2 separate regions of the Homo sapiens genome follow, and region 2 is linked to region 1. The links come from fine-mapping of genetic effects on plasma protein levels. Region 1 holds a variant in brackets. A gene starts in the other region. All regions are shown on their forward strands.

The links. A credible set is the group of variants that fine-mapping cannot tell apart. PIP is the posterior inclusion probability: the model's chance that the variant is causal. The UK Biobank Pharma Proteomics Project read protein levels with antibody pairs (Olink). The fine-mapping took linkage between variants from a reference panel, not from the people measured, so its PIPs are less certain.
Region 2: it holds the start of CRLF1, and the variant in region 1 is the best candidate, but not a certain one, in a credible set for the plasma level of the CRLF1 protein (UK Biobank, PIP 0.64).

What each region holds. Positions count from the first base shown.
Region 1 is chr2:64,993,038-65,001,037 of GRCh38, forward strand. All of the region lies in intron 1 of SLC1A4 (solute carrier family 1 member 4), which reads left to right. It also overlaps the pseudogene RNU6-548P. Among named protein-coding and RNA genes, the nearest start is that of SLC1A4, 7.6 kb to the left of the region's middle. The variant G/GC (reference allele first, on the strand shown) is at 4,917.
Region 2 is chr19:18,599,939-18,607,499 of GRCh38, forward strand. It overlaps CRLF1 (cytokine receptor like factor 1), which reads right to left and starts at 6,861. Exons shown (of 9, transcript NM_004750.5): 1 at 6,604-6,861. The coding sequence starts at 6,718. RefSeq lists an enhancer at 5,983-6,901.

The DNA of each region.
Region 1 (8,000 bases):
GGGCATCTTCTTTGGAAAGGCAGTGCCCCATTCCTTTCTTCCTAGGGGCACGTGAATGAAATGAGACTCTGCCAGTAAACGCCTCAGTTATCCAGCAGGCCCTCTCGAGGTAGCTGCTCAGAACTTAAACACCTGGAAGAGTGGGAAAGGCCTCTGATGAGTCAGCATAGCTGCTGCTGAGGCTTTGTGCTAAAGTCCATGCCCTTTCCTGATGGTAAAGTGCCCCCAAATCCCCCAGGGTCTCTCTGTCATGATTTCTAATTTGGTTTTTAAAGCTGGAACTACAAGTCAGAAAGAGATGAAGCTAGTAGGTATTCATTACATGTGTATATGTTTTTTTAAAATTCAGAATGTCATTGCTGAGTGGTTTGATTTCCCAGCACACAATGGGTTAGAAATAACAATGTAGAATAGAGAATTGGGATGAGAAGGCTGGAGCTAGAAGCAATGAGAAGGGATGGCCAATAGTAGCTGGCAGGTGGAAGAATCATAGTCTCTTCCTGAGCAGCCCGGAGTTCTGTGCCTGGGAATCCAGAACAGTATAGGACTTTCAGAACCATGTGTGACCTAAGTGGTTGACTTGTGGGTTTTTATCCAAAATGAAATGGTTGGGCACCAAAGAGACAGAAACAGGTTATCAGGAAACTAGTCATTGTGGAACTTCTTGGTCCCTAACAATGCTTACTGGTTGTGGGACATGTCCATAACTTTTCCATTCCTTGGTTTCCTCATCTTTATTATGGGAATCATGATGGTACCCACCTCGCAGGATTGTTCTGAGGGTTAGCTGGGTTGTGTCTAAGAGCTCTAAAGCTCTTCTGGGTTCTAAAGCTGTTAGAACAGTGCTGGCCCAATACACCTGTGCTCTTGTTATAAATAGAGTGATTGGGTTTTCCAGTTCACCTGAGCTAATGGGGATGGCCCTCTTTCCGTAACCTGAAATAAATGAGGGTAGATGGGAAGAAGAGGAATGTTTAGGGGAACTCAAGATGACTTGAAGCTAATGTAGTCTCTAGGTGTATTGGGAACCACATGGCATCTGGAGGAGAAGTGAACAGTAACTGACTATGTTTTAGACTACTAATTAATAGAGTCACACTATGGAAAATTTGGAAAGGGAGAGAAGTCAAAACTAAACACAGAAGAGCCTTCCATTCTGAAATGGGACAGAAGTCCCCACAGATTCTCACTGACATTCCGGTTTCTTTTTCCCCTGCCTTACATGCTTATGATCTCCAGTTGACCTCCGCTATAAATTGAAGGGATTGAGGCAAATGGTTTCTAACATTCCTTTGGGCTCTAAAGTTTGTAGTTTTCAAATGGAGAACCAAGGTGTAACTGCCAAGGAGGCAGGTAGGGACAGAGCCTAGGCCCAGGGCTCTGGTCTGTGCTGGCAGCCAGAAGAATGGCCGAGGGCCACCATCTTGCAGTAGCATAGTAGGGTGTGGCCATGTATATGGTAAATACAATTAGGATTTTGTCTGTTGCCCAGTTTTCTAGGGTTTTTTTCACTGCTCGTGCTAATTTTCTTAATAGCAAACCATGCTCTGAGCCTTTCCCTTCACAGAGGGAGGTGTGCTGGACGTACCTCCTTCTCAAGGACTGGTGTGAATATGTATGATGCTTCTCAAGCTGCAAAGAACACATTACTTGAATAGGTGCAAAAAAAAAAAAACTATCAGAGACTGAGATTTAATATTAGCCCCCTGTGCTTGCCTTGGCAGCACATATACTAAAACTGGAACAATAGAGGAGACGAGCGTGGCCTCCGTGCAAGGATGACACACAACGTGATGTTCCAATGTGAAGCGTTCCATATTTTTTAAATTAAAATAAATAGTAATATTAGCCACCAGATGGCAAAGTTGAGGAGTGAGTTGTGAACAATTTCTTTACATTATTGACTGTGGCGGGTTGTTGTAACTATGCCCATGTCTCTTCTATAGGCAAGATGAAGACAGCACATCTAACAAGGATCCAAATTAATGGCATTGTCTCAGCCTAACTAGTGATGAAAGGAAAATAATAGCAGCTTGTAATTTTTTTTAAAAAAAGGTTCTCACTCTTGACCATTTCTTTTACCTCCCAGGAGGACACCTGAATAGTTTAGAGACAGAAAAAAGCATCAACCTAGGGAGGTGGGTAGTGATGAAGAGCAGACACTAAAGCCAACCACCTGGGTTTGAAGCCCAGCTCTATGACGTACTTGCTGTACGTGCACAAGTCGTTTGTCCTCTCTGTGCCTGAGTGTCCTTATCTGTAAAATGAGACTAGTGAGACCTACAACCTAGAATGGTTGTGAGGATTAAATGAGTTAATATATGAGTGCTTTGCCAATATTCTAGTGTGTCCCACCCTCTCAGGGACAGCTGAGGGCTATTTGATATGATGCATGAATGCTGCTCTTAACTTAATTTCCCCCAAAAGATCCCCACTCCAGGGGTTCAGCCTTACCCTTTCCAGCTGGAATCTAAAACTGGATGGAGGCCTTAAAGAGAGGATGGATTCACACCCCCATCATCAGAGTGCAAGTCCACCAGCCCCAGCCCTTCCTCAGCTCAGCCTTGTAGGGGGTACCAAGATCTGAAGGGTCACATCCCTGTTAACTGGCTCTGTTACAATAAATACTAGCGATAATAAATATTTATCAGGTGTACATACCATGCCATATCCTGTTCTGAAGAGTCTTTGAAATTTTAATAGATTTGGTAAAGAATTTTTGAACTTAAATAAAAGGAAATAATTCTGGAACAAAATATGCCCAAGCAAAAGTAAATTGTTTTACATTCTTTTCATATAGAACAGAGAAATGCATACCACCCTTGACAATAGGATCAGAAGAACAAACAGTATCAGATGTTACAGAACGTTTTTGAAGTTTTTCACTGTGTGAGCTGCATGGGTCTGCACAGCACCTCCCACAGTGGTTCTGCATTGGCCAGTTCAACCTCATTTCATACCAGTTTTTCTGTTTGTTTTAAGTAATGTATTCAAAGAGTCTTATAGCGCTGGAAAAGCTTGTTCATTCATTATCTCCTGGCTTGGACTGACTTGGGCCTCTAGATTTAGTAGTGTATCTTAGAGGTTTCACACGTTTTTAATTTTGACCTACCATAAAAAGTACATTTTACATTATGGCATCCACACTATACCCGCCCCCCAACTCCCACATACTCAAACCAAAACACAGGTTCCACCAAACAATATTTTAAGTGTGATATATACTGATATTTTTGTCTAATGTATTTCATCTTTTATAAAATACTGGTTAAAGCCAATACACTGATTTAATGGTCTACTGATATTTGAGAAACTTTGGCCTAATACATATGTAATTCAAGTAGATCTCTCAGGATCAAACAACAGAAAAAGGAAATATTTGCAAACTTGAATAAGATGAGGAGCTCAGTGCTTAGAAGCATCCTAACACCCAGTGAAAGTGGGTGATGTGCAGAGGCGAACACAGGATGACCATTTGGTCCTCCTGACTTCTGGACTCTGGATTTCAGTACTCTACATCTGGGCTGTCCAATACAATAGACACTAGCCACATGTAGCTATTTAAAATTACTTCAAATGTAAATAAAACTTAAAAATCAGTTCCTTGGTGGCACTAGCTACATTTCAAGTGCTCTATAGTCCAACATGGCAGCACAAATGCAGGCATTTCAGTTGGACAGTGCTGGCCTAGATGGAGCAGAAATGGGAGATGCTCAGTGACTGGGCATTGGTGTCTCTATGTGCTAAATGAGGGGATAGAACTGGATCACCTCTAAAATCCCTTCCAGCTCACTGTCTCTGATTTCAAAAGCCCATGAAGCTACTGTGTGAACATGAGGAGTTGGGAAAAATGCCTGAAGACAGAGCTCTGGGAAGCAAAACTGTTTGCCAGAGAGGCAGCTGATCCCGGATTAGAAGAGAGCTCAGGAGTAAGAACCAGAGTTTACCGCAGCATCTGTGTCTGAAAGCCAAAGGAGAGAGGGAAAGTAGAGGACAGAGAAACATGTTGCTTTATTCTGGCAGCCTCATCTCCTTGCCCTTGGTGACAGCAGGAGGGCACTGCTCCTGCTCTTGGTCTGTGGCAAGCAGAGGATGAAAGCAAAGGAGGATGCTTTCTATGGTGCTTCAGCTCACTGCCACCAGGAGAGCCCTTCCCAGAGATTGTTATCTGAGAAATGAGCTGTATAATCTAAAAAAAAGTTCAGCCCTCCCATTGAATGTACGTATTTTTTAGTTGGAAAATCTCTAACAGTTATTACCATACTTTTTTATATAAGTTTTTAAACAATTTCAAGGTAGGATTTATATACAATAAATGCACCCACTTTAAAGGTCCAGTTCAATGAGTTCTGACAAATGGATAACTCATGTGACCACCACCACAATCAAGATACTGAACTTTTCCATCACCTATGACTCTTCTCAGCAATCCCCATTCTCCACCCCTGGCCTCAGGCAGCTGACCTGCTTTTTATCACTATAAATTAGTTTGGCTTTTTCTAGAGTTTCATATCAACAGAATCATTCAGTATGCACTCTCCTTTGTCAGTCTTGTTTTGCTCAGCACAGTGTTGCTGAGATTATCCATGTTGTTGCGTATATCACTTGGCTCCTTTTTATTGCCAAGTGGTATTCCGTTGTATGGAGTTTTCATAATCTTTGTATCCCTTCATCTGTTGATGGACATTTGGGTTTTGGACTATTATGAATAACGCTGTTATGCATACAGTTCCTTTTTGCAGGCATATATTTTTATATTTCTTGGGTAAATATCTAGGAGTGGGCCGGGCGTGGTGGCTCATGCCTGTAATCCTAGCACTTTGGGAGGCCAAGGTGGGCAGATCACTTGAGGTCAGGAGTTTGAGACCAGCCTGGCCAACATGGTGAAACCCTGTCTGCATTAAAAATACAAATTG[G/GC]CAGGCGCAGTGGCTCACGCCTGTAATCCTAGCACTTTGGGAGGCTGAGGGGGGCAGATCACGAGGTCAGGAGATTGAGATCATCCTGGCTAACATGGTGAAACCCCGTCTCTACTAAAAATACAAAAACAAAATTAGCCAGGTGTGGTGGCGGGCGCCTGTAGTCCCAGCTACTCGGGAGACTGAGGCAGGACAATGGTGTGAACCTCGGAGGCGGAGCTTTCAGTGAGCCGAGATCACGCCACTGCCCTCCAGCCTGGGAGACAGAGCGAGACTCCGTCTCAGAAAAATAAATAAATAAATAAATAAATAAATAAATTAGCCGGGCGTGGTGGTGCACACCTGTAGTCCCAACTATTCGGGAAGCTGAGGCAGGAGAATCTTTTGAACCCAGAGGCGGAGGCTGCAGTGAGCCGAGATCTGCCACTGCACTCCAGCCTGGGCAACAAAGTGAGACTCTGTCTCCAAAAAAAAAAAAAAAAATCTAGGAATGGAATTGGTGAGTCCTATGGTAAGTGTATGTTTAACTTTATCAGAAACTGTCAAAACACATCACATTTTTCTTAGGAACTTGATTTTTGGGGGGCAGAAGTTGCTCTTTTGCTTCTGGACCCCTCTGTTCCCATTGGATTTTGCAGACTAGATATTGTAGACAGTCTGAAAACAGGTCGGTGTGCCAGTGGCTGTTAGGTGTAGAAGTTCTGGGTTAAGGACAGGGCCTGTTCTGGGTGAGATGTTACTGGGTTATTGCTTGTATGAAAAGATTGGGCAGGACAGATAGACAGAATTAAACAAATAGTGTTGTGCTCTTTAGAAGAGAATGCATTCAAGGCTGTGGGAAAGGCTGTGCTTGTACCAATTGAGGAAACAGCTAATCCCTGAAGGATGTGAGGTATTTGCCGGGGGAAATTGTTTCCCATGAGGAAAGTGGAGGTCTTCTAACCCAACTCTTTTCTGAACTTCCCGGTCCTCATGGAAAGAGAAACTTAGAGCAGCTCAGTCTGTCAACAACTGAGGATTGTTGTGTGGTGGATACAGAACAGAGAGACTTTGGCACAGGGCCCCTTGCTGCTTCTGACTAGGGCAGAAAATGGAAATGAAATGCCAAAGGTAGTCCCCAAGACTAAAATATGTAAGAAAGTTGCTTTGTAATGGAAATAATAACAAATGTAAGTTGTTATTCATCTATACTCCGAAAACTAGCCAATATAAGTTGCTAGTCTGTTTCTACTTTTTAAAAAGTAAATATAGCTGTGATAAGAATCAAACTTCTGGTCACAGTTTTGCAACAATTTAATTCAGCTAAAGATTAATTTTTTCTGCTTAAATGCAGACATGTACTCTGGTATTCTCTAAATATGCTAAAAGCAACTCAGGTTCTATGGACAAGTTTGGGAAATGCTGTGTTGCAGGCTGTGTATGCTGGCCGTCCTGTGAGAGCACCCTAAGTGTTCTAATGCATTGATTTTTGCATCTTATTAACTTTGTTGGCTGATACATTGCTGCATAACAAACTACTACACATTTAACAGCTTAAACAGCTTAAAATCTCACATATTTACTATCCTACAGTCTCTCTGGGGTCAGGAATCTTGGGACAGTTTAGTTAGGTCCTCTGCTTCAGAGTCTCTTACAAGGCTGCAATCGGAGGTGTTGGTCAGGGCTAGGTTCTTACCCACAGGTCCACCTGGGGAGAGATTCACCTCTGAGGTCATGTTGTTGTTGGCAGAATTCAGTTCCTTGAAGTTTGGACTGGGAGCCTCAGTTGGCTCTTGGCTGGAGACCACCTGCAGTTTCTAGTCTCGTGGGCCTTTCTAACATAGCAGCTTGCTTCATCAAAGTATGCAAGCAGAAGACAATAAGAAGAGTCAGCTAGCACAATGGAAGCTACAACCTTATGTAACCAAATCGTGGATGTGACATCCCATCACCTTTGCTGCATTTGTTCATTAGAAGCAAGTCATAGGTCCACCCAGACTAAAGGGATTACCCAAAGGTGTGAATACCAGGAGGCCATCTTAGACTCTGCCTGCCACAGCTGGGTTGCAGCCAGACCTGCCTACCTCTGAAACCCAATGCACTGCAAATAGTTGCCTGGAGATCCTGGTGAGCAACCCAGCTTCTTACAGAAGTAAGAATTAGTGGATAAGTTTGACACAAATTGTTAAGAATGATCCAGAGTCTTTTGCTCTTCTAGACTTACTCTTCTTGCAGGAAGTGAGAACAAATGGACTGTCAGCTGGAATAGAATTTCTTGTATATCAAGACCAGCATCCTACACAGAGCCCTCAGTAAAACTATTTGCATGAACAGATTTTGGGCTCCATCAGCTCGATTGCCCTACTTTTATAACAAATGTTTATAATATCCTTAATTCTAAGATGAAATCCATAAATAAAATGTCCCTGCCCACATAATTTCAAAATATCAATATGATGTAACTGTAATATACAAAAGGAAAATAATTATAACAAAAACAATGTGTCTCAATATATACATGCTCTAAAATAAAGTGGTTGAATGCTTACTCCTGAACTCAGAATCACTGCTAATGAAATAGTTATAAATGCAGACTGTTACTTGACACTGGGTGTGGAATTAGGGACTCAGATTCTACAATTTGCACTGGTGGTGTGATTTTCCAGGAAGACAAATAATATTTGGAAACATTCTGAACAAAGCAAAACAAAAACCACCCCATAATTTACAAGGAGTTACACTTCTGGAAAATTCAGCGTATGTTCAAATTGTGAAAAACAGAACCTTGTTTTGGAATTAGTTTAGTCTTGAGTAATTATAGATAAGGTTTTTATCTACACGTATGTCATGCAAGACATTGGAGGGCCTTGAGATAATTCATTATACAGGACTCTACTGCATTTAACAGGACAAATGTGTGGGACCTGGCATTTCTCCCTACACACTCCCCCCAATTGGGGAATGCCTCAATTTTGCAACAACAAAAACGCCCTTGGATTTCACTAGTGAGCAGTGACACTTGACATTGCAAACCACTGCAATGGTGCCTAACCTCTAGGTGAGAGGAAAGCAATGCAGTTATAGACTTGGTTGGACACCATTAAG
Region 2 (7,561 bases), not on the chromosome of region 1:
AAAGACGCTGTTAATGATTGTCCCCCATTTTACAGATAGGGAAGGTAGAGATCAGTTGGGTTAAATGCCCAGGGCAACACTGGTGGCCAAACTGACAGACCTGGAGTTGTCCAGGTCTGTCTGACTCCAACACTGGATCCTTCCAAAACTCTTCATCACTGACATGCTTAAGGTTCTCTGAGGGGTCACACAACTCGGGCATAGAGGCTCATTCGGATCCAAGTGACTCTTGCTTAGCACATCGTTATGACAAACACTATGCTTTGCTTTTTTTTTTTGAGACGGAGTCTCGCTCTGTCGCCCAGGCTGGAGTGCAGTGGCACGATCTCGGCTCACTGCAACCTCCGCCTCCCGGGTCCAAGCAATTCTTCTGCCTCAGCCTCCCGAGTAGCTGGGACTTCAGGTGTGCACCACCATGCCTGACTAACTTTTGTATTTTTTTTTTTTTGAGACGCAGTCTTGCTCTGTCGCCCAGGCTGGAGTGCAGTGGCACGATCTCGGCTCACTGCAAGCTCCGCCTCCCGGGATCATGCCATTCTCCTGCCTCAGCCTCCCAAGTAGCTAGGACTACGCGCCCGCCACCACGCCTGGCTAATTTTTTGTATTTTTAGTAGAGACGGGGTTTCAGCATGTTAGCCAGGATGGTCTCGATCTCCTGACCTCATGATCCATCCGTATGGGCCTCCCAAAGTGCTGGGATTACAGGCGTGAGCCACTGCGCCTGGCCAAGTTTTGTATTTTTAGTAGAGACGGGGTTTCACCATATTGGCCAGGCTGGTCTTGAACTCCTGACCTCGTGATCCACCTCCCTCGGCCTCTCAAAGTGCTGGGATTACAGGAGTGAGCCAATACACCCAGGCATGCTTTGCTTTTTATTTTTTTAGCGACAGGGTCTCACTCTGTTGGCCAGGCTGGAGTGCAGTGGCACGATCATAGCTCACTGCAGCCTCGATCTCCTGGGTTCAAGTGATCCTCCCTCATCTCAGCTCCCAAGTAGCTGGGACTACAGGTGTGCACCACCACACCTGGCTGATTTTTAAATATTTTTTTAGAGATGAGGTCTCGCTAGTTTGCTCAGGCCGGTCTTGAACTCCTGGCCTCAAGCGATCCTCCCACCTTGGCCTCCCAAAGTCCTGGGATCACAGGCATGAGCTTCGGTGCCTAGCCTTCTTTATTTTTCATTCTCATTTTGTTTTTCTTTTTTGGCAACTAGAAACAAAAGATTGTGGGTTCTTCCTGTGATGCTCCCAGAGCCTCACACATAGTAGGTGTTTCTGTGGGGGAAGGGCACTGCTTAAAATGAAAGCCCTGACCCTTACTTGAATCATTAAGAGCACCATGTTTTTTTTTTTTTTGAGACGGAGTTTTGCTCTTGTTGCCCAGGCTGGAGTGCAATGGCACGATCTCGGCTCACCGCAATCTCCGCCTCCCAGGTTCAAGTGATTCTCCTGCGTCAGCCTCCCGAGTAGCTGGGATTACAGGCACACATCACCGTGCCCGGCTAATTTTTGTATTTTTAGTAGAGATGTGGTTTCACCGTGCTGGTCAGGCTGGTTTCGAACTCCTGACCTTGTGATCCGCCTGCCTCAGCCTCCCAAAGTGCTGGGATTACAGGGGTGAACCACCGCGCCCAGCCTGTATTTTTAGTAGAGTCCAAGAATCGCCATGTTGGCCAGGCTGGTCTCGAACTCCTGACATCAAGTGATCCACTCGCCTCAGCCTCCCGAAGTGCTGGGATGACAGGCGTGAGTCATTGCGCCTGGCCTAACAGCACCATTTATTGAGCACTTGTTGTGTTCTGAATACTGGGCTAAGACTACCTACATTTTCTCGGCCAATCCTGCTTATATGTTAAAGATGAAAAAACTCCGGCTCTGAAAGATGGAGTTTCCTTGCTGGAATGAGGGAAGGCCATACTAGTTAGGCCCAGATTTTCTGGTCTCCAAAGTTCTGTTCCACACTGCCTACCTCTGGAACTAAAGGCAGCCCTGGCAAACTGCACGTCCCCAACTCCCATCCAAAGGGACTTGACATCATCGCTGTTTCCCTCCACTCAGTTTTCCTCATCTGCAAAGTGAGAACGAGAAAGCTCTTTGTCTCCTGGGGTATTGTGAAAGTCAGAGGGGAAAGGACTTCCTGAACCAGGTTGTGTGTGAGTCAGGTACTAGGCACAGGAAACTTGGGGACGCCCATGGGTGGTTGATGCCTCTCTCTCCTGCTGGCCATCAGGGCAGCCCAGGAGTTCCCCTTCTGGAGACCAGAACCTTGTCCATAGGGAAACCAAGGCCCAGAGGAGGAGGGGGTGCACAGGCCAACCTCCCAATGCCTCTCTGAGTCTCAGTTTCCCCATCTGGAAAGTGGACATCATGGCGTCAATGTCATGGGGTTGGCTGGGTGCGGTGGCTCATGCCTGTAATCCCAGCACTTTGAGAGGCTGAGGTGGGAGGATCACGTGAGGTCAAGAGTTTGAGACAGCCTGGGCAACATGGTGAAACCCTGTCTCTACCAAAAATACAAAAATTAGCCAGGTGGGGAGGGGGTGGTGGCCCCATGCCTGTGGTCTTAGCTACTTGGGAGGCTGAGGCAGGAGGATCGCTGGAGCCCGGGAAGTTGAGGCTGCAGTGAGCCATGACTGCACCACTGCACTCCAGCCTGGGTGACAGTGAGACCCTGTCTCAAAAAAGAAATAAAAAATTTAGATTTAAATTTATAAAAACCAACAAAACAAACCTCATGAGGTTGTTTGAGAGGAGTGAAAATATTGTTGGAGACAATATTTTCCCATGAGATCTTTAAACCAAGTTGACCTGGACTCGAATGCCCCCAGCCTGACTCAGTGTTCTACTTTTTTTTTTTTTTGAGACAGAGTCTCACTCTGTCACCCAGGCTGGAGTGCAGTGGCACAATCTCGGCTCACCATAACCTCCACACCCAGCTAATTTTTGTATTTTTAGGAGAGACGGAGTTTCGCCATGTTGGCCAGGCTGGTCTCGAACTCTTGACCTCCAGTGATCCACCCGCCTTGGCCTCCCAAAGTGCTGGGATGACAGGCGTGAGCCACTGCACCCGGCCTCAGTGTTTTACTTCTTTGAGCCTCTGGAAAGGGGCTTCTCGTTCCACACAGAGTGGTTGTAAAGACTCATCCACGCCTTTGTTCGTTCACGCGTTCATCTATTCATTCACAGGGTACCTATAGTGTGTCCGGATCTGTGGGCACTGGGGTGATGCCCAAGACACACAAAAGTCCTGCCCTTGTGGGCATCAAATCCAAGGAAGCAGCAGGAAAAAGGAATAAATAAATATCTAAGACAATAACTAGGGGAGAAAGTAAAGCAGGGGCTGGAGGAAGACAGAGCAGCGGCAGAAGCTTGGGAGGCCTGTCTGGGGAGGTGACCTTTGAGCAGAGACCTGAATAAAGTAAGAGAAGTAGCTGTGACATTATCTAACAGAGCATGTCCAGGCAGTGGGAGCTGCAAGTGCCAAGGTCCTGGGGCAGAAGCGGTGGGAAATGAGGTTTGAGAGGTCAGAGACCCTGACCTGCAGGGAGGAGGGATTCCAGGGTTCTCAGCCGGGGAGGGAGGGATGCGGTGAGATATGCGTTAAAAGGACTCCCCAGGCGGCTGGAAGAAGGGACTGCAGGAGGCAGGGGCAGCCCAGCTTCGCAGAGATGGCAGCCAAGGACAGGGTGATCCTGGCCCCCAGGGAGGCCCCCTGAATGCCAGCGCTGCCCTGCACTTGCCCTCACTGCCCCAGATGGGCGAGGTGGGGTGGACACGGTTCTTGGGCCGGCCCTGATGATTTTCCGGGGCAAACTTGGCTCGAGGGCTCTGTCTCGCTGGAGCCTGGAATCGCAGTTGCGCTTGGGGCTTGGCCCAGGGCTCGCCGGAGGTCTCCGCGTCCGTGCGAAGGAGCCGGCTGAGCGGGCCAGAGCCGAGGAGGCGGGGGCGGCCGAGGGGGGCGGGGGGCTGGGGGCCAGGGGACCGCCCTGGAGGTCCCAGGCAGCCAGCCGCCCGCTAATTCGGAATTCCTTTTGCATGAACTCGGGTGTGCCAGCGTCTCTGCCCCGGCCCACCCACCGCTTCCTGCCTGGGCCCCCCCAACAGAGTGGGAGGCACGGCCAGGCCTGCCCAGACCCCAGGCCCCTCTCAGCCCTTCTAGAGTGGGTCTCACTCCTCCTGCCCCCACCACCCGCCAGCTTGGCCTGGGCAGGAAGGGGCTCTCTGGGGGGTCCTGGCTGGGGGGCGCTGCCCCTCTGCCACACCCGCCTGGCCTGGGCCGGCGTGGCTCACTTGCCAGCAGCTGCAGCTGCCCTCCCGGGGCTGGGCGGGGGACACCGGGCGGCGACGGGTTGTAGGGGGAAGGCAAGGCCAGGCGGGCCTGGACAGACCAATCTCCCACCCCCTTAGCCCCAGCCGGTAAGGTCAGAAGGACACTTTCTCCTCCCGGGATATGGGCGCAACACCAGTGGGAGAACCTGGCCAATTGACTTCCCCTCTCCAGTTCTCAATTTTCTCCTCCATAAAATGGGAGGAGAAATACGTTCTACTTGCTGGGGAGATCAATGAGATGTGATTGCAATCCAATGTCCAGAGGGCTCAGAAGCCTGAAGCCCCCAGGAGCTGCAAAGATGACAGCCCCTCCCAGCTCTGGGGTCCCGGCTGACTAGGCACTCCCTCCAGGCCTCCACAAACAATGGGCTAAGGCGCTGGGGACAGAGATGCACGCACTCCAGGCCAGGCAGGGGAGCAGCTGGGAACAGCCCACTGAGCCGGAGTTGGTGGGGGCTTGGCTTGGTTTGGAGGGCCTCCTAGGGCTCCCCAAAGCAGATCCCTAGGTTGGGCTTTTGAACAGCTCCCTTTTCACTCCCTGCCTCCCCTCCTTTCCCGCAGAGCTGGGGCCTTTAAAAGTTTTTTCTCTCCTCTTTTCCCAATCTGGAGCCACTGCCGTTATTAAAAAGGAACACCATGTGTTTTAAAAGGGAAAAGTGTGAGATTCTCTGCAAGCAGGGCGGAAGGGTGGCCTCCATCCCAGGGTCCCCACGGGGGTCCCCATCTCCCGTCCCGCTGGTACCTGCAGACACTTTACGACCCACCCGCCTGCTGGTCAGGTGCTAAGACACACCGTAAGTAGAAACATATTGCCGAGGTGTGAGAATCTTTTATTTAATTTCTTCCCCCCTTAAAGGAAAAAACACACTTACAGTGCCCCCCCACCCCCTACACCTTCGCCTGCTGCTCTACTGGCTGAAAACAAAGCTTGGCGCTCACAGTGGCACTCACAGGCGCTGCCCACCGCCTGGCAGAGCCGTCAGGGGCCCTGGGAGGGCCCGAGGTAGCCCCTCACCTGAAAGCCAGGGGAGAGCCAGGCTTTCAGCAAGTGCCCCTAGAAGATGCCCGGACCCTGCCCCTTCCCGGAGGAGCCCTACAGGCAGCCCGCAAACAGCCCAGCACAGGGTGGATGAGCCTGGGAGCAGTGTGTGCCCGGCGACCCCCGGGGTGGCCCGTGCGCCTGGATGGGGTGCGTGGAGTGACTGAACATCTGGGGCGAGTGGTGCCTGCCTCTGTGCCCCTGGGTCGCCTCCCCTGTGGGATGTGTGTGACCGTGAATGTGTGTGTCGGGGATGGAATGTGTGTGCGTCCGCGATGGTGCGCGAATGTGCACCTGGGATGCAGTGTGCGCGAGTTTGAGGGCGAGGGTGACGGGCCACAAGCCAGTGTGATTCTTTGTGTGTCTCTGGGTGTGTCCCAGAGCGGGTCTGCATACGGAGACGTATCCTTGCGGGGGTGTTCCTTGGATGGGGGGCCCCAGAGTGCCTGAGGCCAGAAGTCCCTCCAGGGCAGGGGTCTTGGCCCGTAGGGCAGCGGGTTCCCAGTGGGCCCCCTCAAAGTTTGGGCCCGCTGGTGCCCGGACTCACTGGCTCCCGCTCCCTCTCCCTCTCACCCACTCGCTCACAAAGATTCCTCTCGCTGGAGGCTCTCCGCCCGACGCAGCCTGGCTGAAAACGGTTCTAAGCGCCGCCGGTGGCGGGGACTCCGCGGACCCCCGTGCGCCGGGTCCCGCAGGGGGAGGGCGGTGGCGCCGGCCCGTGGAGACACAAGTCCCCCGGGACCCCGGGCTGCGCGCCAGGCGGCCAGAGCGGCCCCCCTGCAGCCCCGCCCTCCCCGTGGGGCTCATCCCTCCGCCTGGGGGGGCCCGCTGGGGGCCCGCACCCAGCGCGCCAACCGCGTGCGCCCCCGCCTGGGAGCGGTGCCCTGCAGTCCCAGGGGCCCAGAGTCCACCGAAGCAGACGCGTGCGCCCGCCACGTCCTGGCATGCAGAGGGTCTCAGGCCGCGATCCCCCCAGCCCCCGGGGGCCTGGCCTGGCGCCCTCGGCCCAGCTGCCCAGGTAACAGGGCCTCGGGCGCGGAAGCAGGACTCTCTGGACAGTGGACTGCGGCGCCGTGTGCCCCGCAGGTGAGGGCGCCCCGAGGGCTGCGCCGGGGGCGCCTTCCTTTGTTCCCCGGCCGTCCAGGTGGCGCCCGCGCCCCCTCCCCCCGCGGCTGCCCCCGGGGCGCCCGCCCTCTGCTCTGGCAGGGGGGAAGGAGTGGGGCGCCGGGTACTCACGGGCTCCTGATCCGGCTCGCGGCGCCCCGAGGACGCAGAGCAGCAGCAGCAGGGGCAGCAACGGCGGCGGCCGCCGCGCGGATTGGGCGGCGGGGCCCCGGCGGCCGGCGGGCATGGGGCCGGCGCTGCCGGGGGCGCGCGGCGGGCTGCGGCTCGGCGGCGGTGGCGCAGGGCGCGGGACGCAGGCCGGGCGCGGGAGGGCGCGGGCCAGGCCGCCCGCACGTCGCTGGGCGCGGACGCGGAGGCCGGAGCAAGTCTGAGCAGCCGAATTGACAAGGCGCTAATGCGCCGCTGGCCCCGCCCGGCCCCGCCCCCGGCCCGGCCCGGCCCCGGGGGGGCGGCGGGCCCCGCACCGGCCTCCCCGCCGCCCGCCCGCCCGCGGGCACCGCGCGCCCCGCCCGTCCCGCCTCCGCCCCACCGAGAACCGCGCGCGCCCTATCCCGCGGCCCAAAGCCCCCTAACTCAACCCCTACCGGCCCAGGACCTCCCTCTCCAACCCTGCCAGCTCCAGGCTTCCCACCCCCAGTCTGGGACCCGGCACCCCCAATCCCGTTTCCATAACCCTGCCCACTTCCCTGCACCCTCCTCTCAGCCCAGTGCCTCTTCAGTGGCCCCTTTGGTCCCCAACCCTGCCCCACTCCTCCATTCCCCCTTCCACGGCCCAATCTTCTGTCTCGGCCCCCACCCCAGCTCTGGCCCCGCCCCCCCCACCGAGCGGTCCTTGAGTCCCGCCTACCCCCATCTCCAGCCCCTCAGCCTTCCCAGGGGCCTAAAAGTCACCCCCAGCCCCACGCCCTCGGCGCGCGGGTTCCAGCCCTCCCACCTCATCCTGCCTCTTTTCGATTCTCCGCGAGTAGCCTCGGCCCCAGGCTTTGCTGGAAGAAAGGAGAAAAAGCAGGAAGGCACGGAGTCCCTCGCCTTCGCCCTGGCTGCGCTGTCCCCTTCGCGCGCGGGATGG